Linked DNA regions of Homo sapiens. The protein of the gene in region 5 purifies or fractionates together with the protein of the main gene of each other region. This does not show direct contact. Each region holds a gene or a part of one and is shown on either strand. Other genes may lie near its edges. The genes, in order: ARID3B, OAS3, NFIC, KNOP1, MKI67, MAP3K20 and DNM3.

Evidence for each region.
Region 1: the proteins of MKI67 (region 5) and ARID3B purify together in Homo sapiens (affinity purification with mass spectrometry; one large-scale study listed by BioGRID and IntAct). This does not show direct contact.
Region 2: the proteins of MKI67 (region 5) and OAS3 purify together in Homo sapiens (affinity purification with mass spectrometry; one large-scale study listed by BioGRID and IntAct). This does not show direct contact.
Region 3: the proteins of MKI67 (region 5) and NFIC purify together in Homo sapiens (affinity purification with mass spectrometry; 2 studies listed by BioGRID and IntAct, with this or other methods). This does not show direct contact.
Region 4: the proteins of MKI67 (region 5) and KNOP1 purify together in Homo sapiens (affinity purification with mass spectrometry; one large-scale study listed by BioGRID and IntAct). This does not show direct contact.
Region 6: the proteins of MKI67 (region 5) and MAP3K20 purify together in Homo sapiens (affinity purification with mass spectrometry; one large-scale study listed by BioGRID and IntAct). This does not show direct contact.
Region 7: the proteins of MKI67 (region 5) and DNM3 purify together in Homo sapiens (affinity purification with mass spectrometry; one large-scale study listed by BioGRID and IntAct). This does not show direct contact.

Annotation. Positions count from the first base shown.
Region 1 is NC_000015.10:74,575,431-74,579,353, reverse strand, and holds part of ARID3B (AT-rich interactive domain-containing protein 3B), read right to left. Parts: intron 1-3,923. UniProt on the Homo sapiens protein: Transcription factor which may be involved in neuroblastoma growth and malignant transformation. Favors nuclear targeting of ARID3A.
Region 2 is NC_000012.12:112,969,115-112,973,815, forward strand, and holds the end of OAS3 (2'-5'-oligoadenylate synthase 3), read left to right. Parts: intron 1-493; coding exon 494-641; intron 642-847; coding exon 848-859; 3' UTR 860-4,137; downstream 4,138-4,701.
Region 3 is NC_000019.10:3,379,889-3,383,811, forward strand, and holds part of NFIC (nuclear factor 1 C-type), read left to right. Parts: intron 1-1,823; coding exon 1,824-2,355; intron 2,356-3,923.
Region 4 is NC_000016.10:19,704,410-19,708,227, reverse strand, and holds part of KNOP1 (lysine-rich nucleolar protein 1), read left to right. Parts: intron 1-1,006; coding exon 1,007-1,318; 3' UTR 1,319-3,818.
Region 5 is NC_000010.11:128,102,166-128,106,088, reverse strand, and holds part of MKI67 (proliferation marker protein Ki-67), read left to right. Parts: coding exon 1-3,510; intron 3,511-3,923. UniProt on the Homo sapiens protein: Protein that associates with the surface of mitotic chromosomes and acts both as a chromosome repellent during early mitosis and chromosome attractant during late mitosis.
Region 6 is NC_000002.12:173,190,490-173,194,412, forward strand, and holds part of MAP3K20 (mitogen-activated protein kinase kinase kinase 20), read left to right. Parts: intron 1-405; coding exon 406-434; intron 435-550; coding exon 551-688; intron 689-3,923. UniProt on the Homo sapiens protein: Stress-activated component of a protein kinase signal transduction cascade that promotes programmed cell death in response to various stress, such as ribosomal stress, osmotic shock and ionizing radiation.
Region 7 is NC_000001.11:171,987,904-171,991,826, forward strand, and holds part of DNM3 (dynamin-3), read left to right. Parts: intron 1-1,041; coding exon 1,042-1,245; intron 1,246-3,923. UniProt on the Homo sapiens protein: Microtubule-associated force-producing protein involved in producing microtubule bundles and able to bind and hydrolyze GTP. Most probably involved in vesicular trafficking processes, in particular endocytosis.

The DNA.
Region 1 (3,923 bases), on a different chromosome or scaffold from region 5:
GCGCCTCGTCCCACTCCAATCTTCTCAGGCTTCTTTATGCGCAGGTTGCTCTGCTGCTCAGGGAGGGGAGGGGGTCGCCAAGGTGCAAGTCACCCCGGTCTTGCCTAGAAACCAAGGTGCTGAGGGCTGAAAGGCCCATCTGTTGCAGTCAATTCACCCAAACATGTTAACAAGCAAGAGATACAGCACAAAGCAGCAGTTATGGCCCGTCCCTGTCTCCCACTGGACAGCCATTTTATCACCTGCAGCTGCGGTCATTCGGGGCGGCCTGCTGTGTGCTGCATCCCTCAGAGCTGTCTGCTTCCTCTGTGGGCACAGCCTGCTGTGTCAAAGCTGCTGGCCCCTCTCACAGCCCACCTGGGTGTCTCCGGGCCTTTCAAACTCAGGCTATTTTCTTTCGTTTCTTTCTTTCTTTCTTCCTTGCATTTCCCTTTCCCTTTCCTTCTTTCTTTTGTTTTTTGAGACAAGGTCTCACTCTGTTGCCCAGGTTGTAGTGCAATGGCATGAACTCAGCTCACTGTAGCCTTGACCTTCCAAGCTCAAGTGATCCTCCCACCTCAGCCTCCAAAGTAGCTGAGACCACAGGCGCATGCCACCACACTCAGCTAATTAAAAAAAAATGTTTTTTTTGTAGAGACAGGGTCTCACTATGTTGTCCAGGCTAACTCAGGCTATTTCCAGTGACTCCTGTGATATCTACTGCTTACCTTTCATATTAGCTATGGAGGCCAAGTCCCTGACCTGCTGCTGAGGTCTATGAGGCTTTTCCTTGGTCCCAACTAGCAAGATCTGCCTCCTGTGTCCCCCAGACACTCCACAAGTGACAAGTCACAAATGTCTAAGGGCCCTTGTTCTCACCATTCTGTTAAGAACAAAGACAGCCGGGCTCGGTGGCTCATGCCTGTAATCCTAACACTTTAGGAGGCCGACGCGGGCGGATTACCTGAGGTTGGGAGCTCAAAACCAGCCTGGCCAACATGGTGAAATCCTGTCTCTACTAAAAATACAAAAAATTAGCCAGGTGCAATGGTACATGCCTGTAATCCCAGCTACTTGGGAGGCTGAGGCAGGAGAATAGCTTGAACCCAGGAGGTGGAGGTTGCAGTGAGCCGAGATGGTGCCACTACACTCCAGCCTGGGCTACAGAGGGAGACTTTGCTTAAAACAAAAAAAACAAAAAAAAACAAAAAAAAGACAGGCCAGGTGCGGTGGCTCATGTCTGTAATTCCAGTACTTTGGGAGTCGGAGGCAGGCGGATCACTCGAGGCCAGGAGTTTGAGACCAGCCTGGCCAACATGGTGAAACTGTTTTTACTAAAAAATATAAAAATTAGCCAGGCATGGTGGTGCATGGCTGTAATCTCAGCTACTTGGGAGGCTGAGGCACGAGAATCACTTGAACCCGGGATGGGAAGGTTGCGGTAAGCTGAGATCGACCACTGAACTCCAGACTGGGACTCTGTCTCAAAAAAAGGAACAAAGACAGCAAGCCTCACATGATTAAAACTGTAATCTGAGGCCCAGCACGGTGTGGTGGTTCATGCCTGTAATCCCAGCACTTTGGGAGGCTCAGGCAGTTGGATCACTTGAGCCCAGGAATTTGCTACCAGCCTGGGCAACATAAGGGCCTCGTCTCCACACACACACACACAAAAAAACAGAAAAATTAGCTGAGTGTGGTGGTGCACACCTGTAGGCCCAGATTCTCAGGAGGCTGAGGTGGGAGGATCACCTGAGCCTGGGGAGGTCAAGGGTGCGATGAGCCATGATTGCGCCACTACACTCCAGCTTGGGCAATAGAGTGAGACCCTGTCTCAAAAATAAATAAAATAATTAATTAAAATAAAAGTGCAATCTGCTCCCACCCCTCTTTTAAAATTTTCTTCTTCTTTTTTATTTCTGAGATGGAGTTTCGCTCGTCACCCAGGCTGGAGTGCAATGGTGCGATCTTGGCTCACTGCAACCTCCGCCTCCCGGGTTCAAGTGATTCTCCTGACTCAGCCTCCTGGGTAGCTGGGATTACATCTTCTTTTTTTTTTTTTTAAATTACAGGGATGGGGTCTTGTTACGTTGCCCAGGCTGATCTCAAACTCATGGTCTCAAGTGATCCTCCCACCTAGGCCTCCCAAAGTGCTGGAATTATAGGCATGAGCCACCATGCCCCACTCCCAACCCTCCTGAACCACTCACTCTAGTTCGGACTACCAGATAAGAGTTTTCTAGAAAGGAGATCGCTGGGAATAACAACCTCTACACTATCTTCCTGCCTCAGTCTCTCCTCTCTAGCCCAACTATACACTGCCACGGCAAGTTTCCTGAAAGCCAATATTTTGCCTTCAATAACTCAGCTATATCTACAGACTGAAGCGCTTTTTGGGCAAACATGGCTCTTCAGAGTCTCATGCCAGCTGACCCATCCAGGATGGCCCCTGGCTCTGGGCCATCAACAAGGGTTCTTCCAGCTACACCAGGGCCACATGTGTCACAGCATTTTTTCCTCCACCTCCATGGTTGGGTCTGATACACTAGAGCCACAGCTCTTCTCAGAGCCTTTCTCTGCACTGCAGGCCAGGGTGAGGCCCCAGCACTCACTCCTTTGGCACTCAGTCACAGGAAACAATGCTACCTAACACGGCTTGCTCTCATGTACCTGACTGGAGGTAAGATGATTTTCATAAAAAGTTTTTTTTTTTTTGAGACAGGGTCTCACTTTTTGGCCAGGCTGGAGGGCAGTGGCGCAATGTTGGCCTCCATGACGGCCCCCAAGTCCCCGGCTCGAGCAATTTGCCCACCTCAGCCTCCCAAGTAGCTTGGGACTACAGGCATGCATCACTATGCCTGGCTAATTTTGTTTTCATTTTTTGTAGAGAGAAGGTCTCACTATGTTACTGAGACTCACCTGAGCCTCCCACCTCAGCCTCCCACAGTGGTGGGATTACAGGCGTGAGCCACCACACTCAGCTAAGAGTTTTTCTTGCAGAGGATATTTTACATCTTTATTCTCTTTCTCATCTTTCCATGCCAGAGGGTCTCAACGGGACAATTTTGCCCTCCAGGGGACATTTATGACATCTAGAGACATTTTTGGTTGTTGTGACTGAGGGGCTGATATTGGTATCTAGTGGATAGAGGCCATGGATACTGCTAAACGTCCTACAGTAACCAGGTGCGGTGGCTCATACCTGTAATCCCAGCACTCTGAAAAGCCGAGGTGGGAGGATCACTTGAGGTCAGGAGTTCAATACCAGCCTGGGCAACATAGTGAGACCTCATTTCTACAGAACAAAAAAGTTAGCCAGGCATGGTGGTGCCTACCTATAGTCCCAGCTACTCAGGAGGCTGAAACAGGAGAAAGGCTTCAGCTCAGCACTTTGAGGCTGTAGTGAGCTATGATCGCACCACTGCACTCCAGCTGAGGCAACAGAGTGAGACCCTGTCTCAAAATTAAAAACAAAATCCTACAGTGCACAGGACAGTCTCCACAACAAGGACTACCCATCCCAAAGTCAACAGTGCTGAGGCTGAGAAACCTTTTATTAAAGTAACAAGTGGCAGACAGAACCGTTTCCCTTCTGTTGGTAATGCCAGCAAACAGTGAAATACCTGACGTAAGTGCTGAAGACAGGACAAAGATTTACTCAGGACCTGAAGAATCATAAAGTGACATTATCAAAGGGAGTCACTCACTCCTGCTTTGGGTTCACTCAGAAATATACTAGATGGCAATCTGGCAGTCCCAGTTGCCACAGAACAGCAGGATATGCAGCAAAGACTGTTCTCTACTGCTGACTCTCAATTACGGGGCAGCTGGCTGAAGGACACAGATGCACCCAAACCTCAAGGCAGCTTGAATACCCTGCATGTTGCAATCTGAGCCAGGAAAACCAACAAGACTGCTCACACAGCAAACATGTCCTGAGCACC
Region 2 (4,701 bases), on a different chromosome or scaffold from region 5:
TTGAAGCTTTTTGACCACCAAAAAATATGCTCAAGGAAAATGCTTATTGGAGCATTTTGGATTTTCAAATTAGGGATTCTTAACTGGTAAGTAAGGCAAAGGTCCAAAATCTGAAAAAATTTGAAGTCCAAAACACTTCTGGTCCCAAGCATTTTAGATAAGAAATACTCAACCTGTATCATGGATGCAGGAGGGGAGAGTTGTGGAACCAGTGTTGTGATTGATTAACAATGCCTCCCCTGAATAAGGAAGGGGTAAGCGGTAGCACCGTGGTTGATTAGTAATGTTTGCCTGAATGCAGAATGGCAAAGTGGCCATGTGTGTCTTATTTTCTATACCTGCCCTGTAGTGTATAGGAGCACTGAGGAATCTCTGAGCCCTGGCTCTAGCCCCTGCAAAGTGTTAGATAAAAGGGGAAAATAGTCCAACCAGTGCCACAGGTGGACACCTAGATGTTGCCAGGAATAAGACTGTCCCTGGGTGGGAATTGCAGGCCTATCATCCTGGATCCGGCTGACCCGACAGGCAACCTGGGCCACAATGCCCGCTGGGACCTGCTGGCCAAGGAAGCTGCAGCCTGCACATCTGCCCTGTGCTGCATGGGACGGAATGGCATCCCCATCCAGCCATGGCCAGTGAAGGTGAGAGATCTGTGGTGCCAAAGGAAGTACCCTTTAGGGGTAAGGGGGGAGCATGGTCAGGGGAGGGACATGATTCCCACTAAAGGGGCAGGGCCCAGTGATGGCCCCAGGTATGCCCCTGTGCTTCCATTTTCCCATCCGGCTGTGTGGTCTCAGCTTCTGCAGAAAGAATGGGGTTACCAACATCTCTTATAATACTTCCCCAGGCTGCTGTGTGAAGTTGAGAAAATCAGCGGTCCTACTGGATGAAGAGAAGATGGACACCAGCCCTCAGCATGAGGAAATTCAGGGTCCCCTACCAGATGAGAGAGATTGTGTACATGTGTGTGTGAGCACATGTGTGCATGTGTGTGCACACGTGTGCATGTGTGTGTTTTAGTGAATCTGCTCTCCCAGCTCACACACTCCCCTGCCTCCCATGGCTTACACACTAGGATCCAGACTCCATGGTTTGACACCAGCCTGCGTTTGCAGCTTCTCTGTCACTTCCATGACTCTATCCTCATACCACCACTGCTGCTTCCCACCCAGCTGAGAATGCCCCCTCCTCCCTGACTCCTCTCTGCCCATGCAAATTAGCTCACATCTTTCCTCCTGCTGCAATCCATCCCTTCCTCCCATTGGCCTCTCCTTGCCAAATCTAAATAGTTTATATAGGGATGGCAGAGAGTTCCCATCTCATCTGTCAGCCACAGTCATTTGGTACTGGCTACCTGGAGCCTTATCTTCTGAAGGGTTTTAAAGAATGGCCAATTAGCTGAGAAGAATTATCTAATCAATTAGTGATGTCTGCCATGGATGCAGTAGAGGAAAGTGGTGGTACAAGTGCCATGATTGATTAGCAATGTCTGCACTGGATACGGAAAAAAGAAGGTGCTTGCAGGTTTACAGTGTATATGTGGGCTATTGAAGAGCCCTCTGAGCTCGGTTGCTAGCAGGAGAGCATGCCCATATTGGCTTACTTTGTCTGCCACAGACACAGACAGAGGGAGTTGGGACATGCATGCTATGGGGACCCTCTTGTTGGACACCTAATTGGATGCCTCTTCATGAGAGGCCTCCTTTTCTTCACCTTTTATGCTGCACTCCTCCCCTAGTTTACACATCTTGATGCTGTGGCTCAGTTTGCCTTCCTGAATTTTTATTGGGTCCCTGTTTTCTCTCCTAACATGCTGAGATTCTGCATCCCCACAGCCTAAACTGAGCCAGTGGCCAAACAACCGTGCTCAGCCTGTTTCTCTCTGCCCTCTAGAGCAAGGCCCACCAGGTCCATCCAGGAGGCTCTCCTGACCTCAAGTCCAACAACAGTGTCCACACTAGTCAAGGTTCAGCCCAGAAAACAGAAAGCACTCTAGGAATCTTAGGCAGAAAGGGATTTTATCTAAATCACTGGAAAGGCTGGAGGAGCAGAAGGCAGAGGCCACCACTGGACTATTGGTTTCAATATTAGACCACTGTAGCCGAATCAGAGGCCAGAGAGCAGCCACTGCTACTGCTAATGCCACCACTACCCCTGCCATCACTGCCCCACATGGACAAAACTGGAGTCGAGACCTAGGTTAGATTCCTGCAACCACAAACATCCATCAGGGATGGCCAGCTGCCAGAGCTGCGGGAAGACGGATCCCACCTCCCTTTCTTAGCAGAATCTAAATTACAGCCAGACCTCTGGCTGCAGAGGAGTCTGAGACATGTATGATTGAATGGGTGCCAAGTGCCAGGGGGCGGAGTCCCCAGCAGATGCATCCTGGCCATCTGTTGCGTGGATGAGGGAGTGGGTCTATCTCAGAGGAAGGAACAGGAAACAAAGAAAGGAAGCCACTGAACATCCCTTCTCTGCTCCACAGGAGTGCCTTAGACAGCCTGACTCTCCACAAACCACTGTTAAAACTTACCTGCTAGGAATGCTAGATTGAATGGGATGGGAAGAGCCTTCCCTCATTATTGTCATTCTTGGAGAGAGGTGAGCAACCAAGGGAAGCTCCTCTGATTCACCTAGAACCTGTTCTCTGCCGTCTTTGGCTCAGCCTACAGAGACTAGAGTAGGTGAAGGGACAGAGGACAGGGCTTCTAATACCTGTGCCATATTGACAGCCTCCATCCCTGTCCCCCATCTTGGTGCTGAACCAACGCTAAGGGCACCTTCTTAGACTCACCTCATCGATACTGCCTGGTAATCCAAAGCTAGAACTCTCAGGACCCCAAACTCCACCTCTTGGATTGGCCCTGGCTGCTGCCACACACATATCCAAGAGCTCAGGGCCAGTTCTGGTGGGCAGCAGAGACCTGCTCTGCCAAGTTGTCCAGCAGCAGAGTGGCCCTGGCCTGGGCATCACAAGCCAGTGATGCTCCTGGGAAGACCAGGTGGCAGGTCGCAGTTGGGTACCTTCCATTCCCACCACACAGACTCTGGGCCTCCCCGCAAAATGGCTCCAGAATTAGAGTAATTATGAGATGGTGGGAACCAGAGCAACTCAGGTGCATGATACAAGGAGAGGTTGTCATCTGGGTAGGGCAGAGAGGAGGGCTTGCTCATCTGAACAGGGGTGTATTTCATTCCAGGCCCTCAGTCTTTGGCAATGGCCACCCTGGTGTTGGCATATTGGCCCCACTGTAACTTTTGGGGGCTTCCCGGTCTAGCCACACCCTCGGATGGAAAGACTTGACTGCATAAAGATGTCAGTTCTCCCTGAGTTGATTGATAGGCTTAATGGTCACCCTAAAAACACCCACATATGCTTTTCGATGGAACCAGGTAAGTTGACGCTAAAGTTCTTATGGAAAAATACACACGCAATAGCTAGGAAAACACAGGGAAAGAAGAGTTCTGAGCAGGGCCTAGTCTTAGCCAATATTAAAACATACTATGAAGCCTCTGATACTTAAACAGCATGGCGCTGGTACGTAAATAGACCAATGCAGTTAGGTGGCTCTTTCCAAGACTCTGGGGAAAAAAGTAGTAAAAAGCTAAATGCAATCAATCAGCAATTGAAAGCTAAGTGAGAGAGCCAGAGGGCCTCCTTGGTGGTAAAAGAGGGTTGCATTTCTTGCAGCCAGAAGGCAGAGAAAGTGAAGACCAAGTCCAGAACTGAATCCTAAGAAATGCAGGACTGCAAAGAAATTGGTGTGTGTGTGTGTGTGTGTGTGTGTGTGTGTGTTTAATTTTTAAAAAGTTTTTATTGAGATACAAGTCAATACCATAAAGCTCTCACCCTTCTAAAGTGTACAATTCAGTGGTGTGAGTATATTCATAAGATTTATACTTGGTGTCTATTCATAAGACTTATATCCAGCATATTCATAACTAGAGCCATATCACAGATGCATTCATCATAATAATTCCAGACATTTTCATCACCCTAAAAGGAAACCCTGAAACCCATTAGCAGTCATTCCCCATTCCTCCAACCCATTCTCTCCCTAATCCCTAGAAACCACCAATCTGCTGTGTATTTCATCTATTGCCAACATTTCATATAAATGGCATCATACAATATGTGGCCTTTTGTGTCTGGCTTCTTTAACTTAACATGTTTTCAAGATTCATTCATGTTATAGTATATGTTGAGGTTTCATTCCTTTTTATTTCCGAAAGACATTTCCACTGCATAAATTGACTACATTTTGTTTATCCATTCTTCCATTGATAGGTATTTGGATATTCTCCACTTTTTTGCTATTTTGCTGCATTTTTTGCTATTATGACTAATAGCTGCTATGGACACTCTTGTATGAGATTTTGTGCAGACATATGTTTTCATTTTTCTTACGTATAAAAGGCGATCCACAATTGATGACCCCATCATAAGTCAAGGAGCATCTGTGTGCTGTATTAATCAGAGTTCTCCAGAAAAACCAAACCATTAGAATAGAGGAAGAGATATATAAAGAGATTTATTATGAGGGTTTGACTTGTGTGATTATGGAGTCTGAGAAGTTTTGTGATCCACCGTCTGCAAGCTGGAGACTCAGGAAATCCAGTGGTTGTAGTTTCAGACCAATTCAGAAGGCTGAGAACCAGGAGATTGCTGGAATAAGTCCCAATCCAAGTATGAAAGCC
Region 3 (3,923 bases), on a different chromosome or scaffold from region 5:
CCAGGCTGGTCTTGAACTCCTGGGCTCAAGCAGTCCACCCACTGTGGCCTCCCAAAGTGCTGGGATTACAGGTGTGAGCCACCATGCTTGGCCGCCGACCCTAGTTTTTTTTTGTTTTGTTTTGTTTTTTGAGATGGAGTCTTGCTCTGTCGCCCAGGCTGGAGTGCAGTGGCGCAATCTCGGCTCACTGCAAGCTCCGCCTCCCGGGTTCATGCCAATCTCCTGCCTCAGCCTCCTGAGTAGCTGGGACTACAGGCGCCCGACACCACGCCCGGCTAATTTTTTTGTTTTTTTTTCAGTAGAGACGGGGTTTCACTGTGTTAGCCAGGATGGTCTCAATCTCCTGACCTCGTGATCTGCCCGCCTTGGCCTCCCAAAGTGCTGGGATTACAAGCGTGAGCCACCGTGCCCAGCCTTGTTCTTTTTTTTTTTTTTTTTTTTTTTTTGAGACAGTGTTTCACTCTTGGCACCCAGGCTCCCAGGCTGGAGTGCAGTGGCACAATCTGAGCTCACTGCAACCTCTGCCTCCCAGGTTCAAGCGATTCTCCTGTCTCAGCCTCCTGAGTAGCTGGGATTACAGGTGTGCTCCAATATGCCTGGCTACATTTTTTTGTATTTTTAGTAGGGACGGGGTTTTGCCATGTTGGCCGGGCTGGTCTCAAGCTCCTAACCTCAGGTGATCCACCTGCTTCGGTCTCCCAAAGTGCTGGGATTACAGGTGTGAGCCACTGCGCCCAGGCTTTTTTTTTTTTTTTTTTTTTTTGTGACAGTCTTGCTCTGTCGCCCAGGCTGGAGTGCAGTGGCACCATCACAGCTCACTGCAGCATTAAACTCCTGGGCTCAAATGATCCTCCCACCCCAGCCTCCCAACTAGCTGGGACTACAGTTGCAAACCACCATACCTGGCTAATTTTTGTTTTTTTGATTTTGTTTGTTCATTTGTTTTGTAGCGATGGGGTTTTACCATATGGCTCAGACTGGTCTCAAACTTCTGGGCTCAAGCAGTCCTCCCTCCTCGGCCTCCCGAAGCGCTGGGATTACAAGTGTGAGCCATTACACCCAGCCCAACCCTAGCTGCAATAGGCAGAGAATAGGTCCCTGACATCTTTGTTCTCCCAACCTCAGTTTTACCCGTCTGTACAATGGGTTGTCCATGAGCCTCCACCTGGCCCCCTTAGCTTGCTCCATCTGCATGCTGGGGTTCAACATAGGTCCTCCACGGCTGGGCATGGTGGCTCACACCTGTCATCCCAGCACTTGGGGAGGCCGAGAGCCGAGGCGGGCGGATCAGAGGTCAGGAGATCGAGACCATCCTGGCCAACATGGTGAAACCCCATCTTTCCTAAAAATACAAAAATTAGCTGGGCGTGGTGGTGGGCATCTGTAATCCTAGCTACTCGGGAGGCTGAGGCAGGAGAATCGCTTGAACCCGGGAGGTGGAGGTTGCAGTGGGCCGAGATTGCGCCACTGCACTCCAGCCTTAGCGTTAAGAGCAAGACTCCGTCTCAAAAAAAAAAAAAAAAAAAATGATCCTCCACAAACTTCCGCCTTGATTTGTGCCTCTCACATAGTCCAAGTCTGTTTGCTCATCTGGGCGATGGGTTCTTGCAGGTCCCTGATAAACTTCTCCTGGGTCCCCCGGGCCTTTTGCGTGCCTCCGGCGGCGTGCACGGGTCCGCAGCGACCCCCTGCCCACCTCTGCCCAGCCCCTCCCACTCTGCGGGTCTGTTCAGGGCCCCTCCGACCTCAGCCTTCGGGGCCGGGCAGTGGGTCCGCCCTCTGCGTCCCTGGCGCTCCTGACCTCTCGCCTCTCCGGCCTGCAGGATGAGTTCCACCCGTTCATCGAGGCCCTGCTGCCTCACGTCCGCGCCTTCGCCTACACCTGGTTCAACCTGCAGGCGCGGAAGCGCAAGTACTTCAAGAAGCACGAGAAGCGGATGTCGAAGGACGAGGAGCGTGCGGTCAAGGACGAGCTGCTGGGCGAGAAGCCCGAGGTCAAGCAGAAGTGGGCGTCGCGGCTGCTGGCCAAGCTGCGCAAGGACATCCGGCCCGAGTGCCGCGAGGACTTCGTGCTGAGCATCACCGGCAAGAAGGCGCCGGGCTGCGTGCTCTCCAACCCCGACCAGAAGGGCAAGATGCGGCGCATCGACTGTCTCCGGCAGGCGGACAAGGTGTGGCGGCTGGACCTGGTCATGGTCATCCTGTTCAAGGGCATCCCGCTGGAGAGCACCGACGGCGAGCGCCTGGTCAAGGCTGCGCAGTGCGGTCACCCGGTCCTGTGCGTGCAGCCGCACCACATTGGCGTGGCCGTCAAGGAGCTGGACCTCTACCTGGCCTACTTCGTGCGTGAGCGAGGTGAGGTGTGGTGGCCTGAGCGGAGCGGCCAGCGGGGAGGGTGTCTGATGGTGGTGACACGGGGCCAGGAGGGCCTGAGGGAGGAGGCCAGTGCGTGTGGGTATGATGTGGTGGTCTGAGAGGGGAAGTGGGCCTTGGAGAGTGCCCAATGGGGGCGACACGGGGCACGGAGCATCTGAGGGAGGAGGCTGGTGGGTATAGATGTGATGTGGTGGTCTGAGAGGGGAGGCGAGTCTAGGAGAATATGTAAAGTAGGTGATATGGCACAAGGAGAGTCTGAGAGAGGAGGCCAGTGCATATAGATGTGATGTGGTGGTCCAGGCAGGGCAGCAGGCCTGGGAGAGCATCTGATGGGGGTGACATGGTGCAAGGAGGGTCTGAGGGAGGAGGCTGGTGCGTGTAGATGTGATGTGGTGGTCCAAGCGGGGAGGCGGGCCTGGGAGAGCGTCTGACGCCGGGTGACACGGGGCAAGGAGGGTCTGAGGGAAGAAGCCAGCATGTGTAGATGTGATGTGGTGGTCTGAGGGGGGAGGCAGGCCTAGGAGAGCGTCTAATGCAAGTGATATGGTGCAAGGAGCGTCTGAGGGAGGAGGCCAGTGCATGCAGGGCCCAGGGTGGCTGCTGATGGGATGTGGAGGTCAGATGGAGGAGGCAGGCCTAGCAGAGGTCTCAAGTGAGAGATGGTACAAGGAGGTTTTTTTGACAGAGGAGGCAGGTGGGCTGTGGCGCTCCAATGGTAGAGGCAGGATCTCACCCTCACGTCTGAGGGAGGAGGCAGGAAGGCCCTTGAGGTCTCAGGGGGATGAGAATGTCCTAGATGGTCTTGGGCACAACGGACGGCCTTGCTGGGAGCAGGGGTGAGGAGAGGAGAGGGACAGGCCATCCCAGCCCTCCGAGGAGAGCCAAGAGAGTCCTGGCACCGCTTTCTGTGAATGCTTGTTGGTTGATTGACTCTCAGACCATGCCAGCAGAGGCCTGATGAGCCTGGCCCTGCCAGAGGGGTGTTTGCCGGTGGTCAAATGCCTGATGTTGAGACCAGCTAGCTCTGTGGGGTTGAGGAAATCCAAGGCGGCTTCCCAGAGGAGGAGGTGCAGCTGAGCTCAGCTCTGCAGGATGGCCAGGCCACAGTGAACAAGGAGATGCCCCAGGGGTCCTGGCAGGAGCGTGGAGATGAGAGGCCTGATGCCTGTGCCTCTGGTCCCGGTGCTAAGAGCAGGGTTGGTCCTGCAGCTTCTTGGCTGCGTGGCCCTCTTGGACTTCAGTTTCTCTTGCCTGCCAAATGGTGGAGATGATCAGTCTGTAGCTGGATGGGGCTATGGGAGGTTCCAGAAGATCATGCGTGTAGCCACGTGCGAGGTGTCAGCTGCATCCCAAGACCTGAGTGGGTGCACAGCACACCCCTGCCATGCCCATCCAGGCCGTGTCTGGAGCACGCGTGAACCCCCACACACCCAGGGGCTGCCAGAGCATGTGGGATGGGTGTACGCCAGACGCAGACCCACACAGGTCACCAGCCCAGCCCCAGCCCAGGCAGCACTCTATAGAAACAGGCAGTTGCACAGCCTGAG
Region 4 (3,818 bases), on a different chromosome or scaffold from region 5:
TTGGCTGTGTGACCTTTTACCCCTGTGGGCCCGCACCCGTTCCCGCCATAAAACAGTGCTTCTGAGAAGCACACTTCAGATTCCCACTCGCCCTCTCCCACCCTCCAATTCACCCAAACGTTAGGCTGCTGGGTGAGTGCGCCCGGCTGCTGGGCTGTGGGGTGCCCTGTGTTGCAGGGGAGGTGCGCCCTGTGGGGAGGTGGGGGAGGTGTGCTGTCTTGTGAGATGCATGGTGGGGTGAGGTGCGCTGTGTAGGGAGGTGGGGGGAGGTGCGCTGTATAGGGAGTGGGGGAAGTGCTATGTAGGGAGGTGGGGGAGTGTGCTGTGTAGGGAGGTGGGGGGAGTGCGATGTGTAGGGTGGTGGGGGGAGTGCACTGTGTAGCGTGGTTAGGGGAGGTGCGCTTTGTAGGATGGTAGGGGGAGAGTGTGCTGTGTAGCGTGGTGGGAGGAGGTGCGCCATGTGCGCCGTGTAGGGAGGTGGGGGGAGTGCTCTGTGTAGGGTCGTGGGGGGAGTGTGCTCTGTAGAGTGGTGGGGGAGTGTGCTGTGTAGGGAGGTGGGGGAGGGGAGGTGCACTGTGTAGGGAGGTGGGGGGAAATGCTTAGTGTAGGGTGGTGGGGGGAGTGCGCTGTTGTGAAGTGAGGCACACTGTGCCGTGTGCCATGAGTTAGGAAAGGAGGAGGAAGGCAGAAAGGCAGCTCTGTGCAGAGGTGGGCAGTGGTGTTGGCTGGACCTGGGCTGGAATTCTGGGGGTCACTAGTTAGGTTTCTGTCTCCAGCTAAGCTGCAGACCTCTATTTTCTCCTCTGTGCAATGGGAATAACAACAGTGTTTCTCATAGGGCTGTCTTTAGGATTAACGGAATAATCCGTTGTTGAGCTTATTAGCACTGTGCCTGGTACACAGCAGCCATCTAATCTGCTGGGCCCTCCCTGATGAGGGTGGGGGTCAAGGGAAGGAAAGGGCTTTGAACTCAAGGAAAATAGCCACCTTTTTCCTCTCCTCACAGGGAACCCAGTTTGGCCAGTGGGATACTGCTGGTTTTGAGAACGAGGACCAAAAACTGAAATTTCTCAGACTTATGGGTGGCTTCAAAAACCTGTCCCCTTCGTTCAGCCGCCCCGCCAGCACGATTGCAAGGCCCAACATGGCCCTCGGCAAGAAGGCGGCTGACAGCCTGCAGCAGAATCTGCAGCGGGACTACGACCGGGCCATGAGCTGGAAGTACAGCCGGGGAGCCGGCCTCGGCTTCTCCACCGCCCCCAACAAGATCTTTTACATTGACAGGAACGCTTCCAAGTCAGTCAAGCTGGAAGATTAAACTCTAGAGTTTTGTCCCCCCAAAACTGCCACAATTGCTTTGATTATTCCATTTATGCTGGAGATTACAAATTTTTTTTGTGAAAAAATCAGATCTTGGTGAGGACCTCGAGCAGTAAGATATAAATAACTCCCATAAGCTTAGCGTTCCAGTAATGGAACACTAGGCATAAATGGTTTATTCAGTTGTGCAAATGAAAGCCATCTGACAGTTGGCTCACATTGAACACCTGTGGAGATTAAGGACGAGGACAACTATATTGATGGGCTTGGATGAACTGGGGCAGGGCAGCTCATATTTCGGGAGCCAGGAGAACGAGTGAGTGCTAAAACCTCCTGTTTTCTGTGTTAAACATTCCGTCCCTGTTTGAGACATCAGTATGTACAGTTAACTTTTGTTGAGTGTTTAGCAGGTACTAGGGACATACTAGTGTTTTCCTTAATGTATTTAATCTTCATAATTATGAAATGGGTGCTATTATTAGCCCCATCTTATAGATGAGGCAACTGAGGTTCAGGGATAAAGTAATAAAATTGCCTGGGGTCACCCAGCCACTAAGTGCAGGGTGTTGTACTTTTGTACCCGAAGCCCTAAGTTCACTATTCGCCACTCTGAATGTCCCCTTTAGGGAATTTCCACCAGAATCCTCGTTGGGGATTGAAATGTCTTTAGATGGAGGAAAAAGTTTTATGACAAGTCTGCATCTCTGATAAAAAGTGGAGTGAATGAGGAACGGAGAATCGCAAACTCCTTTTCCTTCCTTTTCCTTTCCCCTGTCATAGAGCAGCTGTAGGCAGAGAGGTGTCTGAGTTGTTACCAAACACATGTGACTGAGCTGCTGCTGCTGGGAAATGTGCCTCTAAACCAGTCCTGCCTTTTCCACTGGTGTCCCTTCGGCCCTAAGTGCTGAGGTAGGATTTTTGTGCTTTGACTGGATTCTGAACAAGGCATTTTAGGAAGAGTGGTTAGTCCCGCAAATGAATCAATGGCAGATCCCAGGGACGTGTGTGTGTGTTTTGAGATAGGCTCTCACTCTGTCACCCAGGCTGGAGTGTAGTGGCATATCACGGCTTGTTGCAACCACTACCTATCCAGCTTAAGTGATCCTCCCACCTCAGCCTCCCAAGTAGCTGGGACTGTGGGTGTGCACCACAACAACCAGCTAGTGTTTAAAATTTTTTGTAGAGATGGGGTCTCACTATATTGTCCAGGCTAGTCCCAAACTCCTGGACTCAACTCATGCTCCTGCCTCAGCCCCCAAGAGCTGGGATCACAGGTGTGAGCCACTGTGCCCAGCCCCAGGGATGTGTCTGATGAGATTCTTTTTTATCACAAGGAAGAGAATCCCAGGTGACTTCTGTAGGTGGATATTGAATGCCAGGAGGAGATGAACGTGTGGAGATGACACGGGAAGTTGCCTCATCGGCTGTGGGGACAGCGTTTCCAAGCCTGGACTCTACAGCAAGCCTCAAAGAGCTCCAGGTCCAGTGGCCCAAGTCGCATGTGACCATCTGTGACCACCTTCTTTCCACTCACCTAGCTTTTTGCATCCCAAAATACAGGTTCTGACTGGGACATTTTCACGATCGTTTGGCCTGAACATGCCTCCTACAGACATCCCAGCCCAGGCAGGCCTCGATGGCCAGAAAGTTCAGTCTCACGTGGCAGGAAGGCCTGATTAGGGCCTGGTTCAACAGCTCGCCAAGGAAGCATTCTCTCCATCATCTCCAGTGTTGGCTTCATCAAGGCTAGTACAAAGATGGCAGTAACAGTTCCAGGCAGCATATCAAGACCCTAGAACATTCCAGAGGAAGAAAAGCCTTTTTGTGTCTCAAGGAAACTTCCAGAAGCCTCCATTGCTGGGCAATGAGTCATCTGCCCATAGCTGCACCCGCCCCTGTCATGGGAAGGCTGGTGATTCCCTTCAGTCAAGAAGAGTGGATGCTGGTGAAGTGGCCATGGTGTCCACAGCTGCCCATTGGGCAGAGGTGAGGCAGGCACTTCAGGCAGTTTCCCTGGCTCTGAACCCTGATCCGCAAGCATTGGCCAGGTCAATAGTTGGACAAGTATGTGCTACAAGGACCTACTTGGGCCACTTCCCTCAGGACGTGAACTTGTCCTGCCTTTCTTTCCTGGATTCAACCTTGAGATACATAATGGGAGAGGCCGTGGAAAGCCCAAGAGGCAGTGTTCTGGATTTGAGTGAGTGCCTTCTGGGCACCTCCTCCTTTGATGGAGAAACAAATCCCTCCTGACCTTGAGCAACACTACAGGAATGTGCCTGGTGTAAACAGGAACCAGCCGTTCGTTTCTTTTTTTTTGAGATGGAGTCTCACGGTCGCGCAGGCTGGAGTGTGGTGGCGTGATCTCGGCTCATTGTAACCTCTGCTTCCTGGGTTCAAGCGATTCTTGTGCCTCAGTCTCCTGAGTAGCTGGAATCGGCCGTTTACTACTCATAGTTTTTATCTTGCCAAGAGGTCACCCTGACGTTGGCCTGCCT
Region 5 (3,923 bases):
AACACATTTGTGGGGACTCCAGTGGAGAAACTGGACCTGCTAGGAAATTTACCTGGCAGCAAGAGACGGCCACAAACTCCTAAAGAAAAGGCCAAGGCTCTAGAAGATCTGGCTGGCTTCAAAGAGCTCTTCCAGACACCAGGTCACACTGAGGAATCAATGACCGATGACAAAATCACAGAAGTATCCTGCAAATCTCCACAACCAGACCCAGTCAAAACCCCAACAAGCTCCAAGCAACGACTCAAGATATCCTTGGGGAAAGTAGGTGTGAAAGAAGAGGTCCTACCAGTCGGCAAGCTCACACAGACGTCAGGGAAGACCACACAGACACACAGAGAGACAGCAGGAGATGGAAAGAGCATCAAAGCGTTTAAGGAATCTGCAAAGCAGATGCTGGACCCAGCAAACTATGGAACTGGGATGGAGAGGTGGCCAAGAACACCTAAGGAAGAGGCCCAATCACTAGAAGACCTGGCCGGCTTCAAAGAGCTCTTCCAGACACCAGACCACACTGAGGAATCAACAACTGATGACAAAACTACCAAAATAGCCTGCAAATCTCCACCACCAGAATCAATGGACACTCCAACAAGCACAAGGAGGCGGCCCAAAACACCTTTGGGGAAAAGGGATATAGTGGAAGAGCTCTCAGCCCTGAAGCAGCTCACACAGACCACACACACAGACAAAGTACCAGGAGATGAGGATAAAGGCATCAACGTGTTCAGGGAAACTGCAAAACAGAAACTGGACCCAGCAGCAAGTGTAACTGGTAGCAAGAGGCAGCCAAGAACTCCTAAGGGAAAAGCCCAACCCCTAGAAGACTTGGCTGGCTTGAAAGAGCTCTTCCAGACACCAATATGCACTGACAAGCCCACGACTCATGAGAAAACTACCAAAATAGCCTGCAGATCTCCACAACCAGACCCAGTGGGTACCCCAACAATCTTCAAGCCACAGTCCAAGAGAAGTCTCAGGAAAGCAGACGTAGAGGAAGAATCCTTAGCACTCAGGAAACGAACACCATCAGTAGGGAAAGCTATGGACACACCCAAACCAGCAGGAGGTGATGAGAAAGACATGAAAGCATTTATGGGAACTCCAGTGCAGAAATTGGACCTGCCAGGAAATTTACCTGGCAGCAAAAGATGGCCACAAACTCCTAAGGAAAAGGCCCAGGCTCTAGAAGACCTGGCTGGCTTCAAAGAGCTCTTCCAGACACCAGGCACTGACAAGCCCACGACTGATGAGAAAACTACCAAAATAGCCTGCAAATCTCCACAACCAGACCCAGTGGACACCCCAGCAAGCACAAAGCAACGGCCCAAGAGAAACCTCAGGAAAGCAGACGTAGAGGAAGAATTTTTAGCACTCAGGAAACGAACACCATCAGCAGGCAAAGCCATGGACACACCAAAACCAGCAGTAAGTGATGAGAAAAATATCAACACATTTGTGGAAACTCCAGTGCAGAAACTGGACCTGCTAGGAAATTTACCTGGCAGCAAGAGACAGCCACAGACTCCTAAGGAAAAGGCTGAGGCTCTAGAGGACCTGGTTGGCTTCAAAGAACTCTTCCAGACACCAGGTCACACTGAGGAATCAATGACTGATGACAAAATCACAGAAGTATCCTGTAAATCTCCACAGCCAGAGTCATTCAAAACCTCAAGAAGCTCCAAGCAAAGGCTCAAGATACCCCTGGTGAAAGTGGACATGAAAGAAGAGCCCCTAGCAGTCAGCAAGCTCACACGGACATCAGGGGAGACTACGCAAACACACACAGAGCCAACAGGAGATAGTAAGAGCATCAAAGCGTTTAAGGAGTCTCCAAAGCAGATCCTGGACCCAGCAGCAAGTGTAACTGGTAGCAGGAGGCAGCTGAGAACTCGTAAGGAAAAGGCCCGTGCTCTAGAAGACCTGGTTGACTTCAAAGAGCTCTTCTCAGCACCAGGTCACACTGAAGAGTCAATGACTATTGACAAAAACACAAAAATTCCCTGCAAATCTCCCCCACCAGAACTAACAGACACTGCCACGAGCACAAAGAGATGCCCCAAGACACGTCCCAGGAAAGAAGTAAAAGAGGAGCTCTCAGCAGTTGAGAGGCTCACGCAAACATCAGGGCAAAGCACACACACACACAAAGAACCAGCAAGCGGTGATGAGGGCATCAAAGTATTGAAGCAACGTGCAAAGAAGAAACCAAACCCAGTAGAAGAGGAACCCAGCAGGAGAAGGCCAAGAGCACCTAAGGAAAAGGCCCAACCCCTGGAAGACCTGGCCGGCTTCACAGAGCTCTCTGAAACATCAGGTCACACTCAGGAATCACTGACTGCTGGCAAAGCCACTAAAATACCCTGCGAATCTCCCCCACTAGAAGTGGTAGACACCACAGCAAGCACAAAGAGGCATCTCAGGACACGTGTGCAGAAGGTACAAGTAAAAGAAGAGCCTTCAGCAGTCAAGTTCACACAAACATCAGGGGAAACCACGGATGCAGACAAAGAACCAGCAGGTGAAGATAAAGGCATCAAAGCATTGAAGGAATCTGCAAAACAGACACCGGCTCCAGCAGCAAGTGTAACTGGCAGCAGGAGACGGCCAAGAGCACCCAGGGAAAGTGCCCAAGCCATAGAAGACCTAGCTGGCTTCAAAGACCCAGCAGCAGGTCACACTGAAGAATCAATGACTGATGACAAAACCACTAAAATACCCTGCAAATCATCACCAGAACTAGAAGACACCGCAACAAGCTCAAAGAGACGGCCCAGGACACGTGCCCAGAAAGTAGAAGTGAAGGAGGAGCTGTTAGCAGTTGGCAAGCTCACACAAACCTCAGGGGAGACCACGCACACCGACAAAGAGCCGGTAGGTGAGGGCAAAGGCACGAAAGCATTTAAGCAACCTGCAAAGCGGAAGCTGGACGCAGAAGATGTAATTGGCAGCAGGAGACAGCCAAGAGCACCTAAGGAAAAGGCCCAACCCCTGGAAGATCTGGCCAGCTTCCAAGAGCTCTCTCAAACACCAGGCCACACTGAGGAACTGGCAAATGGTGCTGCTGATAGCTTTACAAGCGCTCCAAAGCAAACACCTGACAGTGGAAAACCTCTAAAAATATCCAGAAGAGTTCTTCGGGCCCCTAAAGTAGAACCCGTGGGAGACGTGGTAAGCACCAGAGACCCTGTAAAATCACAAAGCAAAAGCAACACTTCCCTGCCCCCACTGCCCTTCAAGAGGGGAGGTGGCAAAGATGGAAGCGTCACGGGAACCAAGAGGCTGCGCTGCATGCCAGCACCAGAGGAAATTGTGGAGGAGCTGCCAGCCAGCAAGAAGCAGAGGGTTGCTCCCAGGGCAAGAGGCAAATCATCCGAACCCGTGGTCATCATGAAGAGAAGTTTGAGGACTTCTGCAAAAAGAATTGAACCTGCGGAAGAGCTGAACAGCAACGACATGAAAACCAACAAAGAGGAACACAAATTACAAGACTCGGTCCCTGAAAATAAGGTGAGAGGAAGTATTACAGCATCACTCAATATCGTCTTGGATAGTTGTGAATTTCTGTGTTATACTTTGCATGTAACCTGACGTTATAAGTGGTTATCCTTTCCCCAGAGGGTTTCCTTTAACACTGAATAACTGCAGGCCATGGTAAAGAATCTTCTTGGGACCTATAGAGGGAATAGACTAATATGGGAAAAGAACTAGTCAAACATGATTAATGCAAACTTAGAAGAGTTTCTCAAAAGCCAAATGAGTAATGTTCATCTTCAAATGTTTAAAAAATTGATCAGAGGATAGGTGGGTGGTTCAGTTCTATGTTCTGGATACTGTCACCAAGACCAGGACTGGGTTAAAAATCCTATCTATGTCACTATTTTAACTATCAGAACAATATCAATAAGGAATGTGTATTCTTG
Region 6 (3,923 bases), on a different chromosome or scaffold from region 5:
TCTCCACCTTTAACAAAAATCACTCAGTTGGGAGGAAACCATATATATAATATGAAGTAGTAAAGCTAATGACTACCTCAGTATCACATTGGCAGTACATGGGCAGAACCCAGGTAAAAATTTGGTTCTCCTAACTACTACTAATTTGTGCCTTTCTTACTGGACAGTACTGCATTTGGATAAAACAAGTGTCTCAGAAGCCTTTTTAATCAGTACCTAATGGAATTAAGTTTTTGTTTTAATGTCAGCCCCCTTTTGCAAAATCCTCAATGCTGTAAATACATTGATTTCACCTTTCATAATCCCATATTGAAGACAGAAATAGAAGTTTATGGTTTTTTTCAGTAGAAGACAGCTCAAACAAATTAGATGATTGTCATAATTTATCCTTTTTTCTTTTTTTAGTTGTTATAGCTGCTGATGGAGTATTGAAGGTAGGACTATTTCTTTTACTTAAAAAAATTGTTAATTTCAGATGTAGATTTTTGTAACTGATAATCCCTTAATTAGCCAATAAGTAGAAAGTTGACACTGATTCCTGTTTTCTCAGATCTGTGACTTTGGTGCCTCTCGGTTCCATAACCATACAACACACATGTCCTTGGTTGGAACTTTCCCATGGATGGCTCCAGAAGTTATCCAGAGTCTCCCTGTGTCAGAAACTTGTGACACATATTCCTATGGTGTGGTGAGTTCATTTCTCATTTCTTGTTTACTAAGGGAAATACAAAAAGCAAACACTCAAAAGAAGAGAGATACAGTTTAACATGGTTTTATTTTTATTTGAGACTGTACTGCTGGTGGAATGCCTAAAGCAGCACCATTGGAGAACGCTTCCTAGTTGCCAAAATGTTTAATCATTTTTAATCATCGGAGTTATTTTGTCCTGTGTTGAGAAGAAACCAACACCACTTCCAAGAAACAAATTAAATGGAATCCGAGATAGTGTTGGGCTCCGCTTTGCCTGTGAGAATGATTTTTTGCAGGGTGGTAATGTGACTGTGGACTCTCTCTGTAATTTCAATGGAAATGTGGATCATTTGGAACAGGACTTCATTGTAATGGATTGCTTAAACAGTATAAAATCACCAATAGATCTGCCAAGCGAGTTAATTACCAGGAAACTTTTGAGTCTCAACTATTAAACTGATTCATCGGTTTCTAAAAGTCCAAAAGAAAATGTACTTAGCACTTACCAGATGACCTTGTCCATGTCTGCTGCCAGTCTTAGAGTAGCAGTGACTATCTGAAGCGTGACTCTAAGGCATTACATAAGAATCACAGCAGAGCCACATAGAGAATAGACTAATGAGGGGGTGGAGTGCTCAAGGAAGAGACCACAGGAATGAATCCGTTAAGGAGCAGAAGCTCCTGGAGGAGGAATTTGGAGATGGGCCATTTCCTGAGGAATAGGTTATACCTGCATTATCAGAGAGAAGGAAGTGGAGTGGGAGAGTTCTTTGCTGGAGGAAGGAATTCATTTGTTGCCTTTTGTTGAGGATAAACTTTTCCCTAAAATGTTACGTATTCTTTAAAAAGTCCAAAATAGTTTTGGAATTCCCTGTCTTTACATCTCATACTGCCCTGCTATTTATACTATTATACTGCCCTGCTGTTTATACTATTACTTCCTAAAAGGGCATTTTCATAGTAATGGGTAAAGAAGCAGCCTGTTTTAGGTCCAAATCAGCCTGTCTCTTCGTCCTGAACTTCTGTGTTTTCTTACTGCAGGTGGTAGCCAATGACACAAGAGGAGATTCACGTTGTCAGACCTGTTTTGTTTTGTTTTGTTTTCTTTATTCGGTCTCTAGGTATTTAATGCTGGCTTCACAGGTTTTGGACTTGTTTCAGTGACTAGCTTTTTGTAAATCATAACACATCCTATGTATACCAAATTAATAAAGATTAATTTTGTTAGCTATTGAAAAAATCATTTCAAGAATGAAATATGTTTTTGACCGAAGGCTAGAATTTTAAAGGTCAGAAGGCAAGAGTAACATCAGGCTTAATACCTGATATCCAAAAAAAGAAAAAAAATCAATACCTGATATCCCTTGATTCTGGTTTCTTAAGAATGAAGACTATAAGCTATTACAGTGATCAAATATTTCTCATAAGTTTCAGAGGAGACTAGCTTATAAAACTGGTCTCCTATGTCAAATGTTACTACATTCTAACCATCATACATTCATCTGTGGGATATTCTGAAAATGGGGTATTTGTAGCAATTTAAGACTCTTTGTAAGATTGTTTTCTCTTGTGAAAGTGCATTCCTTCATTTATAACCAAACGTTTATTTACTGAGGCACACACCACCTGAGAGTAATTTAAATTTTTCTTAGCCTGCTTGTTGGGAACGGCCTCTCGTTTTGTCCTGTTGAAATAGGAACAAGCAAACTTTTTCTAGAAAGGACCAGATAATATATATTTTTGGCTTTGAGGGCCACTTACAGTCTCTGTTGCATAGTCTTCATAGATGCCATAGTTGGCTTTTTGTTTCTTACAACCCATCAAACATGAAAAAGCCACTCTGTATTCTGCAGCAGGCCATCGTTGCGGGCACCTCCCTGGAACAAGAGGGCTTGGGAAGATGAGCAGCGTGGTTTAGGAACGTGGCTTGACCGTTCAGAGTGGCTCACCAGGAGCCCACTGCTCCCACTCCTTTAATGTGCATGTGTATATAAATGTATATAAACATGTTTGTTGGTGTTAGGTATATATGTATGTTGGTTATAGTTATTGTAGACTGTTACAGCTTTTAAATTGTTTGTCACATTTATATGAACTAGAAGACTTTTGAGGTTCATTTTTGCACTTATGAGTCCACACACATACAGTGCTTTTACTTTTAAAATTCTCCCCAAGTGTTTGAATTTCCTTATCTCAAAAATTTTTGACCTTAAGACACAACTATACATACATTGAACTTTTAGCCTCAACATTATTTCATATATGAAAACAAACTTTATGCTGCCTTCTTTCAAAGCCTTACAGTTGCCAGGGCTTTGGTGTGAAATGCCCCCCTCTGCTTTTCCTGAGATGAAGTACAATCTTAGTACCAGTAGCCAAGCACAAATTCCTTTTCACACATAAACTATAAAAGATGTTAAGAGTGACTTCTGTTTGGAGAGCTTAGGATTTTTTTCCTGTATCATTTTAAAATCTCTTCATACATTCCACATTGACCCCATTTCTTAAACATAGTTTGAGTCAACCTTTCTGGAGCTGCACATTTTCAGTGTTTTTTATTAAAAATCTTTTCACTTAAGAAACTATGCACCACATTTCAGTAGAAGGGCTTGAACACGTCTCTTTGTGGATTAGCTTTTCTCTCTACTTGTGTGCTGACCCTACCTTTGCTTAGTTTGGTTTGGTTTTGGAGGGATTTAACAAATGCTTAACAAACCATCCTATGGAGTAATTTCACTTACTGAAACAAACTCGACCACCAGCCACTGAGCATTTCCAGTGTTGCTCTGTATTTACACACTGGATGTTGCTCTGCAGAACCTGTCCACCCCATCATGTGATGTGGAATATCAATTCTGCATTCATGCTAGAGCCTTCCCTTACCTGGTGGAAACAGAAATGCCATTTCAGTGAGTGAGTCTATTTTAAAACAGCTTCTGCTGTGTGAGTCTTGAAGACAGAGGTTTGCTTGGAATGCTGGTTTGCCTCACAGAATGTTGTGTCAGCAGAATTCCATTCAGAAAAGTGTACAGATGCTAATTTAATTATAAACAAGAACTCAGGACTGTATAGGTTGATGCAAAAGTAATTGAAGTTTTGCCATTTAAAAGTAATGGCAAAAACTGCAATTACTTTTGCACCAACCTAATATTTAATTCTGACCTCTTCTCATTCTGTTTGTTCTAAATAAACACCATTAATGAGAGAAAAAATACGAGGTATGCTTTCCAGCG
Region 7 (3,923 bases), on a different chromosome or scaffold from region 5:
TTTCTAGGGTATCCTTTGGATACTGCCCATTAATGTTATGGTTCAAAGAGCTCTTAAGACATTTAAGGAGAGGCAGTAGGAGATGACTTTAATAAAAACAGAATTGAGTTAGTCATCAAATTTTTTCTTCATTTTTATTATAAGCTTTTAGAATTTGAGAAGGGTATATATGAAAACTTCCATTTTTCAGTCTTTGCTGAAATCTTAGAGGTACATGTTACTATGGTTGCATCTTCCCCTATTGGATGTCTTGCAGCCATATATAGTCCTATTTATTTTCTTCCTGAGAAATCAGCTCTGACTTTTTCCCCCAGACTATCGGTAGAAACTTATAAATTAGATAACCAATCCATAATGTGTGATGGGAAATAACCTGTATGCTGACTAAATTTTTAGTGGGCAAATTTTCATTTCTTATTCCCTACTTAGCTCTATTGCTTTTAAAACAGAATATAAATGACATAAGCTCAATTATGACTTCCCAAGGGTACTTGGTGCCAACATTGTTTATATGGAGAGGTTGGGCTAGAGTCATGTTGTCACTGACTCTGTTTGTACAGCTGATTCAGTAAACCCAGGGCACCACGAATGGCTAACAGCTTTCTACTAGGCTAAGTGGTTAACTTTCTATTAAAAAAAAAAAATGATACTTTTTAAGGAAAGGGCAGTCTTACCCTGTGAGTTTTTATACCACTTGAAGGCAATGTATAAGACTGGCAGATAGCATATGCATTTCTCATTTGGTGTTTTAATTATAACCCCCTAGTTACAGATATGACAGCTTTCTGAGCAAACTGTTAGGCATGCAAATCAGTGCCTTTCAAATTATGTTAAAGTGATCATTTGGCATAGCACAATCATATCATAAAAATAGAGAAAACTAGCAAAACCATTTTTATTTTATGCTCTTTATTCTACACACATGGGTTGGAGTTGTTCAGATACACAAAGTAGAAGGCTGAGCTAAGTGACAAATGATTCTGTATTGTTATCTTTTAGCATTGAAGGTGTATGTAAGACTCCTTTATCCTTTCCACACAGTGTTAAATCTAACCCTTATTGATCTACCTGGAATAACTAAAGTGCCTGTGGGAGATCAGCCACCAGATATCGAGTATCAGATCAGAGAAATGATTATGCAGTTCATCACGAGGGAGAACTGTCTGATTTTAGCTGTTACTCCAGCCAACACTGATCTTGCAAACTCAGATGCGCTGAAGCTAGCTAAAGAAGTTGATCCTCAAGGTGAGTGTGTGACTACTAAGATGAGAAGGAATTAAAGTGTCAGGAGTTTTGGTATCTTTAAAGGTAACATAAATTCTTAAGATTTGGTTTCATTATAAATAAATTAGCCATTATTAATGTTGTTAAACCTTTTGTATTTTAAATAGAAAATTCAGTATTTAATATTAAAAAATAATAAATAATTTTAGTAAAGATTTACTAAAATAATGAAATTTATATAGTCAAAATCTATATAAATCTAAGAATAATGAGATCTAAGAAAACAGGCATTTCTAAGCCTCATGGGCTGCATATTTTAAAAAGTTGGTAAAATAAACTTCTGGTACAGCAGAATTCAGACAATCTACTAATTATTATGAGTTACCTGCATATGCTTCCAGTGAAAAACCTTTGTGTTTTTTACTTTGTCTTGTTTCTTTAAAATAGGAAGCTCTAATGCATGTAAGATATTATTTAGCTTATAATTATTTGAGAAAAAATGTACGTATAAGCAGGGATTTATTTGGTATTGTCATCTCAATATCCAGAAAAGGTCCTTTCTTATGCGTATGTTTAAACTTTTTACTTCTCTAAGTTGAATAACGACAGTTTATCTTCAGAGACCTCAGTGCTGGCCTTGGTGTGTGTCTGTTTAAAGTGATTGTGGAAGGGCATTCAATGATGTGCCCTTTCAATATGGAGATACATGTTCTTCAGTTCTAGGAATTTTTCTTTTTTGATAATTAATTGTCCCAATTTCTTTGTTCTTTTTATCTGTAGTTCTTATTAGCATGTTAGAACTCCTAAATGAATCCTTTATTTCAATCTTTCTCTTCTATAATCATTTCTTTGTCTTTTTGTTCTACTTTCTGCAAGATTTTATCAACTTTATCTTCTGCTCTTCTGATTCATTTTAGAGGTTCCAAAAGCATATTTTTACTTTGTGAATCTTATTTTTATTTTTTAAAATAGCATCATGTTCTTGTTTTCATAAATACAATATCTTCCTCCAAGGACTTTAGTGAGAGCTTTTTGAAGGTTTTCTTTTGTAATCTACATTGTCTGAATCTATTGTTTTCTGATTGTTTGTTTTTGTCTCTGTCTTTGATGTTAGAGACCTTTTTCAAATGTTTGTCGATCTTTTGCCGCTTGTTCGTGCATGAGAGTGGAGCACCAAAAAGCTGATTTATGTACATGACAGGGATTCATTGACCAGTGGGTTTTCCCATGGAGTAACTGTGCTGAGAGTTGACCATTTTGTTAGGAGACTTCCTCAACTGTTAGGTTCTATGAGTATTTTCTCCTGAGCTGGTCTGGTATAAGCCTGATGTCTAGTGTTCTTGGAGCCAAGAATTGGTGGGTCAGGGGATGGAGTGGGAGGAGGATGGTTCTCACTATTCAGTGTGTACACTTTTAATTAATTCCTCTGCTTTCATGATGGCATTCCTGAAATTCTTCTGGAGTCCAGAGTCCCTCTGGTTCAACCTCTTTTGAAGCAAGTCTTCAGTACTCTGCTGAGGTTGAGGAAGGGTAGCTATGTGGGTGTGTCCTCTAGGAGCCTTCAGCCAATTCTTTTATTTTCAGCTCTTCCTATACCCTAGCATTGGTTCTCCAATTCTTAGGCCTTTCCAGAATTCTGCAATGGTAACTGTTTTTTTCTTCTTGGTTTCCTCCACCATCCCTGAAACTGGGGCTTGTAACAAGCAGGTAGAGGCTCCAGATGACAAGTAAGGACCATCACCAGGACTCCCTTTACAGCGTCAGTGGCTTGGAAGAGTCAGATTATAAACTGGGACTGGAATCTAGTTATAAAAATGGTGCTGAACCATTCCTGTCTTACAGCCTTCTTTCCCATAGGAGATTGAGCCATGGTTGTCTGATTGGGACAGAGAGAGTCATACCATCAGTGAATTCTAGTGAGTTCAGCCCAGTCACATTCCTGAGGAGTCCACACGTAGTCCACGTAGAAAAAACAAACTCAGCTTCTCCTACTATATTCTCAAACACGCTTCTGACTCCAGATGTGTGGTGATTTCTCCCTACTGCAAACAAGCAATTAATTCTTTTCTGCAGCAGACATCAGCTAGGTATCCTCTGATTAAATTTTATTCTGATACTATTTACCTGGAAATAGCATCAGATCACACTGATTGAGGGTTCAGTCCCACAAGATGACCCCCACTTCTGATGCCAGTTACAAGATCCAGGTTGTTTACCCTGTGCTCTGACTGACTGGCTATAAATTGGGGTTTCTACAACCTTCTTCTTGTGTTCTATTAATTTGCTAGAGGGGCTCACAAAACTCGGAGAAACAGTTCTTTGTTATAAAGAATATTACAAGGGATACAGATGAAGAGATGCATAGGGCAATGTATGAGAAGCGATGTGGAGCTTCCATGTTCTCTCCGGGCACACCATCCTCTAGAAACCTCTGCATCTCCAGCTATCCAGAAGCTCTCCAAACCCAGCCCATTTTGGATTTTTATGGAAGCTTCATTATGTAGGCATGATTGATTAAATCATTAGCTATTGGTGATCAACTTAAACTTCAGCCCCTCATCCCTCCTAGGAGGTCATATCTGTTCTTTCTAGTGACCAGTCCACTTGCTGAAGCTATCCAGGAGCTGCCAGCCACTTACCAACCCATTAGCCTGCAAAAAGATACTTATCACTTTGAAGATTCCAAGGACTTTAGTAGT